4 linked regions of the Homo sapiens genome follow. The protein of the gene in region 1 purifies or fractionates together with the protein of each later gene. This does not show direct contact. Each region holds a gene or a part of one and is shown in the gene's direction. Other genes may lie near its edges.

Region 1 (3,500 bases):
TAGATTTGTTGTACCTCTTCCAAGTATAAGTTCTTTTTTCCTGAAGCCTACCCAAATACTTTTCTCATCAGATTTCCCCTAATTTGAATTTTTAATGGAGACGAAGGGAAATTATAATGGGGCTAGTAGCTCAAAAATTTTTAACGTAATTTGCTTTTTCAAATTTTCAAACTGCTATAATAGGTGAAAAAAATATAGCAGTAATTTTATTGATGTGACCAAAATTTATTTAAATTATGTATATTATTAAAACTATATTTTAAAACAATGGTTAAATTGCAGTAATAAAGCTCTAAGTATCATCAATGCCTCTTCTAATATCACTGTCCGATTAGATCTTGAACAGTTTTTAATTATATTTTAGATTGTTAGAAACGGATAGTAAGTCTTTAAGATCTGTAAATGGGTCAAGAAGAAACAGTGGCTCTTCTCTTGTGTCGAGTTCATCAGCCTCTAGCAACCTCAGTCACCTTGAAGAAGATTCTTGGATTCTTTGGGGAAGAATTGTTAATGAATGGGAAGATGTACGCAAAAAGAAGGAAAAGCAAGTTAAGGTATTCATGTTCTTTGTTGAAGTTCTTATTCTTATTCCATAGTGCGTCAGACATAACTTAATAGAGGATTGGGAAAAAAACCCCAAATACAACTTCCAAGCTATATATTAAAGAGGTCTGCTTTATTTGTTTTCACTTACTTGTACCCCTAAAAGTTTTAATTTGTAGACATCAGTTGTTACAGAGGTCCTGATCATATAGAAATATATAACTGAAAATTATTTTATTTACTTATTATTATTTTATAAAGACTCACTTTGTTGCTCAGGCTGGAGTGCAGTGATGCAGTCATAGCTCACTATAACCTCGAATTTCTGGGCTTAAGCTGTTCTCCTGCCTCAGGCTCCTGAGTAGCTATGATTACAGGTGTGTGTCACCACACCTCGCTAATTTTTTATTTTCCTTTTTGTAGAGATAGGGTCTTGCTTTGTTGCCCAGGCTGGTCTCAAACTCCTGGCCTCAAGCAGTCTTCCTACCTCCGCCTCTCCAAGTGTTGTGAGCTACTACACCCGGCCCGAAAATTGTTTTAGAAATTAAATTCTCTCATTTTATTGATTCAGAAATGAAGTTGTGATATCCTGCATTCTTGAATAACAGTATTTTCCTTTTTTTTTTTTTTTTTGCCTTCAACAGCCCTTTGAATGTTGGGTACTGTACCATCATTCACAGCTCTGCAGGTTTCAAGTCCATTACCTTAAGAGGTCACACACTGAGGTGAAATGATCATTATTAATCCCCTGACCAGAAGAGGATACACCCAGGGCCCAATCTTACCCTTGACTTACAGGGTTCCCTAGTCTTATTATAAAGCTAGCTTTGTGAGTTACAAATTTAATGATGTCTTCTACTTCATTCCAACCCCCTAATAAGTCTTCCTTGGCTTGCAAGATAGGACACTTAAATAATTCATTTTTGTAATTTTATTTTATTTTTAGGAACTTGTTCATAAAGGGATACCCCATCACTTTAGAGCAATAGTTTGGCAACTTTTATGCAGTGCACAAAGTATGCCAATTAAGGATCAGTATTCAGAACTCCTGAAAATGACCTCGCCTTGTGAAAAATTGATCCGAAGGGACATTGCTAGAACTTACCCTGAACACAACTTTTTTAAGGAAAAAGATAGCCTTGGACAGGAGGTTTTATTTAATGTAATGAAGGTAAGTTTTATTTATTCATTTTTTGAAATGAAATGAATTCCTGGAAGGTTGAAATTATACATTTTTCATGATGAAGCATGACCTCCCACCACAATAATCAGTTGCTTTGGCAGTGAAATTGGTTTTAGCATCATTTTTGCCTTAATTCTTATGCTACATTACTATCTAGTATAGAGAACTTGTTAGAACATTTACTACGTTATTTAGCATTAGTTGATGGAAATGGAATAGCTTAAAAGTCACATATCATAGAGGGATCCTCATGAAAAGGAATAATTCACCATCTGTGAAGTTCAAAACCTGGGATGTGGGTTTCTCCTATCATATCTGTGTTCCTACAGTGAGCAAATTTTTCTGCTTTCTATGGCCAGCACTGTTAAGAGCACTTAGCCCTTGAAAGGTGTACCATTGTCATTTTTTCTTCAATATTGCCATTTCCCTTCCCACAGTTACTTTTTCTTTTAGCTACTTCTTTGAAATACTGACTTCTTGTTAAATCATTTCAATTTCGCCAATCCTTTGCCTTAAACCTAGTCTAGTTTTATATACATCAATATAAATTTTACTTGAATTTTTTTTTTTTTTTTTGAGATGGAGTTGCACTCTTTTTGCCCAGGCTGGAGTGCAGCGGTGTGATCTCAGCTCACTGCAACCTCCACCTCCCAGGTTCAAGCAATTCTCCTGCCTCAGCCTCCCTAGTAGCTGGGATTACATGCGCCCGCCACTACGCCCAGCTAATTTTTGTATTTTTAGTAGAGACAGGGTTTCACTATGTTGGCCAGGCTGATCTCGAACTCCTGGCCTCAGGTGATCCGCCTGCCTCTGCCTCCCAAAGTGCTGGGATTATAGGCATGAGCCACTGTGCCCAGCTCAATTTTACTTGATTTTTAAGCCCTGTTACAAATTCCTTTATTTTATTTTATTTTATTTTATTTTATTTTATTTTATTTTATGTCTTTAGAGCTAGCAAGTTTGGATTGGGAAATTGTCAAAATAAAATTTCATGTAATAAAACATTTGCTTTTTAAATATGTATAGGATAACATCTATAACAAGCAAGCAAGAGCTTTTCTCAAAAATAAATGTTTTTTAATCTGTCTGTCTTGCCAATTTTAGGTTTTTTGGAGAAGGAAGGTATAACTTACCATGTATTTTGAACAACTTTTTTTTACTTTTTAGGCTTACTCTTTAGTAGATCGTGAGGTTGGTTACTGTCAAGGAAGTGCTTTTATAGTTGGATTGTTGCTTATGCAGGTAAGTTAATATAAGTATTAAATGTCCAATGAAATTTTTTATTAAGTTGGATTGGAGAGTTTAAAAAGCATCTTTGTTTTATTAAATGTAAGTGGATATGGGTATTTTTTCCTAGGCATAATTTGAATACAAATATTTAGTTTGCATTTTAAAAGATTAAACATGTTAAAATAACATAGTAATATCTTACCACCAAATGAAATTTCAACTTCATGATAGATACATTTTTACTGTAATATTCTACTAAAGCTTGAATCTACAGTAGTTTAAAATCTTATTTGTTAACATTTAATGAAGAGTAATCTTTTTCTAACCAAGGAGGAAATAATTAAAGTGTTGGTAAGAAAATCTTATTTATATTGTACAACATCTTTAGAGATTTATAGAGAATTTAATTTATCATGGAGCTAAAAGCTTGTTATGCATACCTCACTGCATGCCCTAAAATAGTGGTACTCAGCCACTTTTACCCCCTAGGGATATAACTTTGTTATTGAGTGTGCAGTGGGTTTGGGTGGAATGTTTTCAGAAT
Region 2 (3,500 bases), on another chromosome or scaffold:
TCCCGGCTACTTTTTGTATTTTTAGTAGAGACGGGGTTTTACCATGTTGGCCAGGATGGTCTCAATCTCTTGACCTCATGATCTACCCACCTCAGCCTTGTTGATAGTTTTTATGTGATGCTTTATCTAAGTAGGCTGAGATTCTGGAGAACAGAGGCCATACCAGATGTTTTTAGGAGCCTTCAGTGTGTTTGGTGATAAAAGCTAAATACACAAAGTACACTAACAATACAGGATTATCTGTGTGTCATTAGAGGAGTGCACATACTCCTCTACAAGTTACAGGCATTTTGTAGAAGTGTTGGTCTGGTGGGCTACAGTATTGCGGGAAAGGCTTCCTTTAAGGTGTAGTGGGACATGACTGGGGCCTAAAGAATGAATAGGATTTGAAATGCATGAGGAGGCTGTAAAGAAGGATGTTCTCTCAGGAGGAGACAGGGGAGAGTGAGTTTAAGCATAGGGACAGGTATGAGCTAGATGTATATGGGGATAATTATAGCACTATTTTTAACTATTTTGAAATATACACTTACAGAAACATTGCAAAAATAGTGCAGTTTCTATATTTTTCCAGATTGCTCCAGTGTTAACATGTCATATAACCATAGTGCAATTATTGAAACCAGGAGGTTAACATTTCTGTAATACTACTAACTGGTCTATAAAGCTCACCGGAATTTTACCACCTTTTTCACTAATGTTCTTTTTCTGGGCCAGGATCCTGTTTAGGGTTCCACATTGCCTTTAGGGTTGTAGCTCCCTGCCCCCCTCTAGTGACAGTTGCTCAGTTTTTTGTCTTTCATGACCTTGACACTTGAAGAACATTGGTCAAGCCAGGCACAGTCACTCACACCTGTAATCCTAGCACTTTGGGAGGCCAAGATGGGAGGATCCCTTAAACCCAGGAGTTCGAGACTAGCCTGGACAACATAGCGAGACCTCATCTCTACAAAAAATAGAAAAAATTAGCTGGGTGTGATGGCATGCACCTGTGGTCCTAGCTACTCTGGAGGCCGAGGTGGGAGGATTGCTTGAGCCTGGGAGTTGAGGTAGCAGTGAGCTGTGATTGTGCCACTGCACTCCAGGCTGGGTGACAGAGTGAGACCCTGTCTGCCCACCGCCCACCCCCCCAAAAAAAGCATTTCTCAATAATTTTGTAGAATGATTTTGGGTTTGTCAGACTGTCTTATGCTTACATGGAGGTTGTGACTTTTGGGCAAGAACACATCATAAATGCTGTGCCTTTCTCACTGCATCACCTCAGGAGACAGTGATATCAATGTGTCCTGTTACTGACGGATCACTTTGATCCCTTGGTTAAGCTGATGCCTGTCAGTTTCCTTTTATTGAAGAATGGAATTTAGAAATGAAGATCTGGTTGCTAGGTGTACTCATTACTACTTTTTGTAGTTATGTAGAAATTACAGAGACTAGAACTCAATAAATGTTTTATTAAGGGCAAGGGAAGTAGAAGAGTCAACTATGAACTTGAAATATCCACCTTGAGTGTGGACAGAAGTCAGGTTGGAGCAGGGATAATTCTTGATTTTTGACATGTTGGGTTTGGGATGAAAATGGTTTGTCTAAGTGAAAGCATTTATTTACATTTGGAGATTTACGAAAGAGCTTAGAGGAGAAATGTCAGGATCTGGGGTTCTTGCAAATGATGCCTGGGATTTGCTTTTCTTTAATGAAGAAATGCAGTTGTCTGATAGCATGGTGTTAATAAGGGTAAGATCAGGAGCTTGGTATGGGCATTTCCAAGGCCTTTGTGACTATGATCTTGAGGTGGACACCCTGGATATTGTGGCGCTCTCAGCTCCGACACATTGGAACAGATACTTTCTAAGCCTTGATTTCTTTATCTGAAGAATTGGGGTGGTACCTGCACCATGGGAAGGTTACTGGAGGCTTATAATCCTAATCCATGTGAAGTGCTTGTCTAACATAGTGTTGGCAACTGTTCATTAGTTTGCTTCTCCCTCCAGTCACCATGCTGGGTGGCAGTCAGCATTATGTGGCTAGCATGTTTTTTCCCCTAACCCTTCCCTGCTGTCCTGAAGGGGTCTTGATCACAAGGAGACTTGGTGAAAGAGGAAGTAGGATTGCTACAAACATGAACTATGAGAGCGGTAGACAAGATATGGTACTCCCCACCACCCCTGGGGAAGGAGCAAGAGCAGTCTGAAAGAAGTTTTAAGTTTAACCTGTGCTTTCTGGTCTCTTATTATAGCTTTAAAGGAAAATTAAAAAGCATTTTTCACAATGCTTCTGTTTTCCCTCTGTGAATACAAATGATTATTGAAACAATCCATACAATGCAGGAAAGACAAAAGCTCTGTAGTCTCATTCCCAGAAACAGCTGCTCTTGACCACTTAGGCATGTTCTCTGGACCTCCGTTGTCCAACAGGGTAACTGCATGTGGCTGCTGAGCACTTGCGATGAGGCTGGCCCAGCTTGGGATGAGCTGGAAGCGTGCAGTACTGTACACACTGGGTTTCCAAGACTTAGAAAAATGTATGCGAAATATCCTTCATACTTCTTATATTGGTTATGTGTTGAAGTGATTGTTATTTATATATTGGCTAAAATATTCTGTTCAATTCACCTTTTAAATGTGGTTATTAGAAAATTTAAAGTACCACAGGTGGCTCACAGTTGTAGTTTGCATTCTGTTTCTCTTGGGCAGTGCTGCTTTAGACTTATGCACAATATGTACTCAAAACAAATGGGATCATGCCATGTCTATTACTCTAAATCTTAATCTATGGCTATCTTTTCCTGTAGCCTACAAAGGCAATTTTGCCATTTTTAATGGCTGCACAAGGCAGCATATGGATGTACTGTAATTTTTTCTTAAAAATATACATTTTTTAAATTGCCAAGATCTGATGCCATATACTGTAATGTGTTTAACCATTCCCATGCTGATGAGCATTTAGGTTGGTTCCAATTATTTTCCTTTTGTTTTTTGTTGACAGTAATAATTGCACAAATTTATGGGGTTCAAGTGATTTTTTTAATACACGTATACAATGTATAATGATTAAATCGGGCAATTAGGTTATCCACCACCTCAAACATTTATCATTTCTTTGCATTAGAAACATTCAAGATCCTATCTTCTAGCTTTTTTGAACATACTAATAAATTGTTAATCTTTTGATACTGTGAAAGATTGTTCTTGTAACCTCATTTATTTTCTCAGAATAAATTCCTAAAGCTGGAATTGCTGGCATGCACATTTATAGTCTTCATTGATATGGCCAATAGCCACCACAAGAGAACCAGTCTGTTTCTTCGCCACTCTAAGTTCGGGTCATTGTTCTTTCTCTCTCTCTCTCTTTTTTTTTTTTTAAATTCTTATTCATACTAAATGTTTTACACATGTTTTAAAGTTGACTTTCATTGGAGGGTTGAGCCTCTGTTCACATGCTTGGTAGGCTCTACATTATTGATCACTGGGAACAATGTGTTGTTTTCCTTATATTTCTTGTTT
Region 3 (3,500 bases), on another chromosome or scaffold:
AGGTAATGGGATCAATGATCCTCATCATTGGGTATTTATTGCATGTAAGCTTTGATATAGTACTGAGCATGTTGTTACAGAGAACCTTGGAAGGATAAGACCCAGGGGACTGAGGTGGTGGGGTGTTGGGTGTAGAAATCCCTCTGCTGTTAGCTTCCATTAAGGGCTTTGTGTTGAACTCAGGAGTTAACCTATTTCTGTGGTTCTAGTGCAGCTGAAGAAGCATCTGACTTCTCTTTCTCTTTTCTATCTTGAGGAGTAGCTGAGTTTCTTCTTAAGAAATGGAGACATTCTTACTCAGGGCTTTAAGATACCGTTTTTTTGTGTGTGTGATAATACCTGTCTACAGTCCTGGTCATTGTACTTTTGTGGCATATTAAATACTTACAACAATTCCTAGGTGTTATGTATTCTCTGGGACATGGAAACTGAAGAAGTTGAAGACATACTGCAGGAGTTTGTAAATAAGTCTCTTTTATTCTGTGATCGGAATGGAAAGTCGTTTCGTTATTATTTACATGATCTTCAAGTAGATTTTCTTACAGAGAAGAATTGCAGCCAGCTTCAGGTACTTGCATCTTGGTTTACTTTTTTTTTTCCTTTTTCCTTTGAAATAATTTTAGATTTATTGAAAATTTACAAAATAGTAGATAGTTTCTGTGCATAAGTCCTTCACCTAGCTTCCCCTAATATTAACATTTTATATAACCATAGTACAGTTGTTAAAGCCAGAAAATTAACATTGATACAATACTGTTCACTAACCTACGTGTTCTTTTTGTAGTCCAGGCCAATTTAGGATCCCGTATTGCATATGATTGTCTTGTTTCCCTACTTGTCATTTTTTTCCGTCTCCTCAAATCTGTGAAAATTTATCAGTCTTTATCTTTCATGGCCTTGTCACCTTTGAAGAGTACTGGCTAGTAATTTTGTACAGTATACCCAAATTTGGTTTTGTGTGATGTTTTTCCTGACTAGATTGAAGTTATAGATATTTGGCAAGAATACCAATGATGTTGTATCTTTCTCAGTGGCGTCATAGGCTGAGAGTACTTGGTGGTTTTTAAAAAATTTTTTGTAGAGATAGTGTTTTGCCATGTTGCCCAGGCTGTTCTTGAACTCCTGGGCTCAAGTGATCCACCTGTCTTGGCCTCCCAAAGTGCTGAGATTGTAGGTATGAGCCACTATTCCCAGACTCCTGGTGTTGATATGTTTTATTATGGGTGATGTTAATGTTGATAATTTGTTTAAAGTGGTATCTGCCAGGTTTCTGCACTGTAAAGTCATTATTTTGTGGGGAGATTCTCTGTATATATATATGTATTTTTTTTTTTTTGAGACAGGGTCTTACTGTGTTGCCCAGGCTGGCATGCAGTGGCTCACTGCAATCTTAAACTCCTGGGCTCGGTTGGTCCTGAGTAGCTAATTCCCGAGTAGTTGGGTCTGCAGGCATATGCCACCACACCTGACTGATTTTTTTTATTTTTTATTTTTTGTAAAAAAATTAAATATACGGATATCTCTCTATGTTGCCCAGGCTAGTCTCGAAGTCCTGGCCTCAAGTGATCCTCCTACCTTGGCCTCCCAAAGTGCTGGGATTACAGGCGTGAGCCACCGAGCCCGGCCTCTCTGTACATTCTTAATAGCTTTGGAAGCTGAAGTTACTGTGATGCTTAGGTTATAAAATTGTTTCTGGCTTCTGAAACGTTTCATTGGGTTGCAGGATCTACATAAGAAGATAATCACTCAGTTTCAGAGATATCACCAGCCGCATACTCTTTCACCAGATCAGGAAGACTGTATGTATTGGTACAACTTTCTGGCCTATCACATGGCCAGTGCCAAGATGCACAAGGTAAGATGACCCATTTAAAAATTCTTTTATCTGACTTCCCTTTTTCCATATGTATTACAAATAAGTGCTTTTTTTCTGTTATTTTTTGTCTTGAATTTTGTTCATATTGCTTTCCATTTGATTTTTTTTTTTTTTTTTTTTTTTTGAGACAGGGTCTCACTTTGTTTCTCAGGCTGGAGTGCAGTGGCACAATCTCAGCTCATTACACCCTCACCTCCTGGGCTCAAGTGATCCTCCCACTTCAGCCCCCCATGTAGCTGGGACTATAGGCACATGCCACCATGCCTGGCTAATATTTTTGTATTTTTGGTGGAGATGGGGTTTCACTATGTTGCTCAGGCTGGTCTCAAACTCCTGAGCTTGACGTGAGCTCAAGTGATCCACTCGCTTCAGCCTCCCAAAGTGTTAGGAGTACAGGCATGAGCCACCGCGGCTGGCTGAAGATTTGAATTTTTATGTAGTTAAATTTACCACTGTTGTTGTCGTCGTTGTTTGGTATTTTGCTTTGCTGTCCTGTTCATAAACATGTATTGTTTTATTAGTATAATTTTTTATTAGTAAAAATGGGATTATAGCTTGCATAATTATTTTTGTTTTTACCTGTAGTGATTAGAAAAGGTACCTTAGTAACTAGTAAATGAACCACCTCAGAATTAATCCTCTTCTTACTAGTAGCTTTCCTTTTTGGGCAGTATGGATTTGTTTTGTAAGCTTTGAGAGGAAATGGATAGTGGAAAAGTATATTCATTGATTCAATAAATATTTATTGAGTGCTTGTTATGTATATTGCTCTTCATTAAGAGGATAAAGCACAGGCACAAAGTCATTGCTCTCACGAGTTTATGTTCTGGGAGGAGGCAGACATTAAACAAATTTATTATATTTCAGTGGGTAGTTAAGTGCTCAGAAGAAGGACAGAGCATGGAAGGGGAAAGAAAGTGATGATAGAGGGGTAGAATCATCATGATTTGCTTATGGGTTTGGTATGCATTATACGAGAAAGAGAAGAATCAAAGATGACTCCAAGAATCAAAGATGACTCAAACCCCAGTGGAAAGAACGGAGTCCATGAACTGAAACAGGGGTCTTTGGGAGAACAAGCTTTTTCCTGCAGAGAATGGGGATGGTTAAGAACTCATTTTGGATATATTAAGTCTGATATACCTATTAAGGCATCTGGCTGGAAATATTGAATAGGCAGTTAGATATATGAGTCTAGAATTCTGGGGAGAATTATAGATGAAAGATGAAAATAAGGAATTATTAGCACATAGATGGTATTTGATTGAAGTCATGACTACCAAGTAGCTACTAAAAATGTTTACATTTGGAAAACCATATGTACTTTCAGTAAATTTTCTATGCTCAGGTATGTTATTTCTTGGTTATGATACATAGTAAATTGTTGTAGTTTGTTTTTTTATCTAGCAAAATATATTTACATTTAATAGTGTATATTGGAATGATGGTATTCCAATAAATACTTGTGCCCTAATTTACTTAACCAAACTCTAGTTATCGAACATTTAGGTTTTCAGTTTTTTTGGTCCTTATGATGTAATGAGCATTCTTGTTTATCTTTGTACCTATGTTGTTTCCTTGGCAAATTCCGAGAAGTAGAATTACTGAGCCAATGCATCTTTTT
Region 4 (3,500 bases), on another chromosome or scaffold:
ATTCTCTGCAGCTACTACTTTTTTCCCTTTCCTGGTGGAGCATTTGAACATCACCTTGAGAATTAGTTGTATTTTGTTTGAACACAGGGTTAAGTGAAAAGCTAATTTGGGGAGGTGATTTGGAATGTCAGGTAGTCCAGGTTGCAGTGTAGAAAGAACACACTGAAAGGATGGTCAGTGTAATGTTAGAGGACTGTGAAAGTTGGGGAAAGAAGTTTAGTTTGTAGGTACTTGTTTTTTTGAGCAGGGAATTGTCTTGGCTGGAGGTGAACGTCAGAAAGGTTAATGTAGGCAAGTGTAGAATGGAAATGAAGGTGTGATCATTTAGGAGGTTATTTGTTTAGGTGAGAGAGTTAATGAATTAGGTTTTGTATTAACGAATGAAAATGGGAGCAGATAAATTTTTAACAAATTAAGAATCATATTTTAAAATCAGCACCAGGTACCTAGAACTCTTTGGCAAATAGAAACTTTCAAAAGATATAATCAGGTCCGGGCGTGGTGGGTCACACCTATAATCCCAGCACTTTGGGAGGCTGAGGTGGTGGATCACTTGAGGTCAGGAGTTCAAGACTAGCCTGGCAAACATGGTGAAACCCCATCTCTACTATTATACCAAAAATTAGCCGGGCGTGCTGGCTGACGCCTGTAATCCCAGCTACTCGGGAGGCTGAGGTGGGAGAATTGCTTGAGCCCAGGAGGTGGAGGTTGCGGTGAGCCAAGATTGTGCCATTGCACTCCAGCCTGGACGACAGATCGAGACACCATCTCAAAAAAGAAAAAAAGAAAAAATCAGTTATTTAAATTTAAAAGAGTAAGTTTCCCCAGCACTGTTTCTGGCATGATATAATTAAATGATTAAAATTATTTGATTTTTTTTTTCTTCCAATAGAAAGAAATGCAGGAGTTGAAACTAAATAGCAGTAAGTCAGCATCCCGTCATCGTTGGCCCACAGAGAATTATGGACCAGACTCGGTGCCTGATGGATATCAGGGGTCACAGACATTTCATGGGGCTCCACTAACAGGTGAGCTGGCAAGTGGATAATCGCATATTTTAGTAAAACTACTTTACTTCCCTCTTTTAAGTAGATAACGTGTGAAATCACCTTGTTTATATATGTTTGTTAATATACATGTCAACGTCTGTTTATATGTGACTTCAAAAGCTGTATTAGGTGTTACGGAGATTTTTATAATCCCAAGCAGAAAAAACGAGCCGTATGTGATCACGTGTATATAAAGGCTTAAAGAACACTTAATCCACACCTCAGATGAGCTGAGATGAGATTATTCCTTAAATTGCAAAATGTTATTGAATAGAGTTATGCACTAAGAAATGCTTAATTAAGAACCTACACCTCTGGGGAATTATTTTGATGATAATGATGAGAGGCAGGACGTTATATAGGAAATCTTACTTAATTTGAAATATTATGGTTATATAAAGAAAGAAAAGGAGTTTGGACCTGAATCATACTGGGTTTTTAAGTTCTGCTCTATCACTTACTATAATAGCTGTGTAAGTTAACCTGTCTGAAATGTGGAGATAATACTTGCCTTACATAATTACTATGAGCATTTGTGTATGTGCAGGTGGGCGTGGGTGTGTATCAGACATTTATTAGAGTATACAGTAAACAGTTAATGAACTAAGGTTACTAATAGTGTTTACTGTGGGTTGGCTGTGTGCAAAAGTGCTGTGTGAATGTAATTTGATTTAATTACAGTAACTTAGAATGGCCGGCACCATTATTAATCCCTTTTTTATAAATAAGGAAATGGATAAAGAAAGGTTAGGTAACTTACTCATTATTATACAGCTAGTTATTGATAGAGCCGAGATTCACACTCCAGTGGTGTAACTCCAAAGCACTTGCCAGTATAATACATTGCTCCCAGGCAGCCAGAAATAACAAAATTGTTCCTTTTACGTACGACAGACTTCTGAAATGGTAGTAGTAGTGCCCTTTTTTTTTTTCTCTTTTTAGCCCAGGAAAGATTTAGAAAAAAATCTAGTTTAGATGAGCACATTTGTGTGATGGTTCCTATAGTTAAGGCAACCCCACTAGCCTTTTGTGATAGTATCTTCTCAACACAAGCAAAATAACAGAAAATCTTTGTGAAGTCAAGCTTATTAAATGTCGTAAGTCATAGATAAGTATATGAAATGTCTAACGTTCAAACCTTGTTTTCTTAAAACCTTACACATCATATAGGTCCTTGTAAGAGGATAAACAAACCGGCTAGCCTTTCCTGGGGCTTTTTTAGTGATGTGTGCAGTCAGTTATTTGGTGCCTTGTGGGTCATGATTTCCATTTCTTCTGTGTACAGGCATAAAAGGTCTTCTGTTCTTATACAAGCATGTAAATCCAACATTCTCATTGTCTCATTTTATTCTTGCAATGACCCTGTGAAATGTGTAGAAGCAGCACATCGTCATTTTACAATTGAGAAACATGGAGACTCCAAATGGATTATTTACAGGTTCACAAAACAGCTTTGTGGCACTGAAAGGGCGAGAGCCAAGATCTCCTGATTTCTGTTCCTGTGTTCATAGATTCTTTTTCCTTAATAAAAGTAAACATATATCAAGATGGTCCTTGTTTTTTTAAAATAAGATGATTAAAATTAAAGATTAATGAGCTCATAGGAGATACTCAGAAGTACTGAACAGGGTGAAGAAAACTAAAAGCTAACCACCTTATTAACATTTCTTATATTTGAGAGCATTTCCTTCTGGTTCTTTCTCTATACATATAGTATTTTTTATGAGATTGTTACCATGTTACTATGTTGTGTGTAGATGAGCTAGCCTGTTTTTAAAATGTTACTTTAGTTCTGAGCATTTTTAAACTTAAATGTTTTTTGAATATTAATGAGTTCATGGTATCCCATCACATGGAAGTACTGTAAATTCTGTTCCTTTATTTATGTTGTTTCTGGTTTATGCCATTACAAATTCTAGGACACTGTCCTAGTTTTGTAGGGTATTCAAAATATTCAGTTTATGCTCTTACCGCTAGTATCTGATAGTGCCATTTTCGCACTTTTGCTAATGCTGACTTACTAGTTTATAAAATCCTTTGCCAATTTGTAGGAACAAAAGTGATATCAATTTTTAAGTTTTTTTAATACTAGTCATGCTCAACAATTCATGCAAATGGCAGTTGGTAGTTTTGCCATCTTCAACGTACCTTCCAGTTGTTTGGTTTCTTGGTAAAACTCACACAAAACAGATGGAGAAGAGTTTTTGTATATCAACATGAATGTTAATGTGATTTTTTTAAAGCCAACGAACACATTTGTGTTCCTTGTGAGATCCTGTGCGTGAATTTGTCAGGTAATTTTTTTGACCTGAACATTCTCATAATAGCTTCAATTTGCACAATGCAACCTCGTCATTTTGCAGATTTTCAAGGCTCACTTCAAAAACATGTTCCTTGAGGCCTATTAACATTTCTTTCCTAAATTGTCTATTCATATGGTGCTTTAAAAAA

Evidence for each region. Proteins that work in one complex are often made in the same cells at the same time.
Region 2: the proteins of EVI5 (region 1) and MYO5B purify together in Homo sapiens (affinity purification with western blotting, with the first as the bait; one study listed by BioGRID). This does not show direct contact.
Region 3: the proteins of EVI5 (region 1) and APAF1 purify together in Homo sapiens (affinity purification with mass spectrometry; one large-scale study listed by BioGRID and IntAct). This does not show direct contact.
Region 4: the proteins of EVI5 (region 1) and RGPD8 purify together in Homo sapiens (affinity purification with mass spectrometry; one large-scale study listed by BioGRID and IntAct). This does not show direct contact.

The regions. Positions count from the first base shown.
Region 1 is NC_000001.11:92,701,609-92,705,108, reverse strand, and holds part of EVI5 (ecotropic viral integration site 5 protein homolog), read left to right. Parts: intron 1-364; coding exon 365-554; intron 555-1,187; coding exon of another isoform or gene 1,188-1,268; intron 1,269-1,276; exon of another isoform or gene 1,277-1,372; intron 1,373-1,489; coding exon 1,490-1,714; intron 1,715-2,893; coding exon 2,894-2,968; intron 2,969-3,500. UniProt on the Homo sapiens protein: Functions as a regulator of cell cycle progression by stabilizing the FBXO5 protein and promoting cyclin-A accumulation during interphase. May play a role in cytokinesis.
Region 2 is NC_000018.10:50,185,148-50,188,647, reverse strand, and holds part of MYO5B (unconventional myosin-Vb), read left to right. Parts: intron 1-3,500. UniProt on the Homo sapiens protein: May be involved in vesicular trafficking via its association with the CART complex. The CART complex is necessary for efficient transferrin receptor recycling but not for EGFR degradation.
Region 3 is NC_000012.12:98,665,790-98,669,289, forward strand, and holds part of APAF1 (apoptotic protease-activating factor 1), read left to right. Parts: coding exon 1-2; intron 3-400; coding exon 401-568; intron 569-1,723; coding exon 1,724-1,855; intron 1,856-3,500. UniProt on the Homo sapiens protein: Oligomeric Apaf-1 mediates the cytochrome c-dependent autocatalytic activation of pro-caspase-9 (Apaf-3), leading to the activation of caspase-3 and apoptosis. This activation requires ATP. Isoform 6 is less effective in inducing apoptosis.
Region 4 is NC_000002.12:112,392,146-112,395,645, reverse strand, and holds part of RGPD8 (RANBP2-like and GRIP domain-containing protein 8), read left to right. Parts: intron 1-892; coding exon 893-1,028; intron 1,029-2,426; coding exon of another isoform or gene 2,427-2,539; intron 2,540-3,500.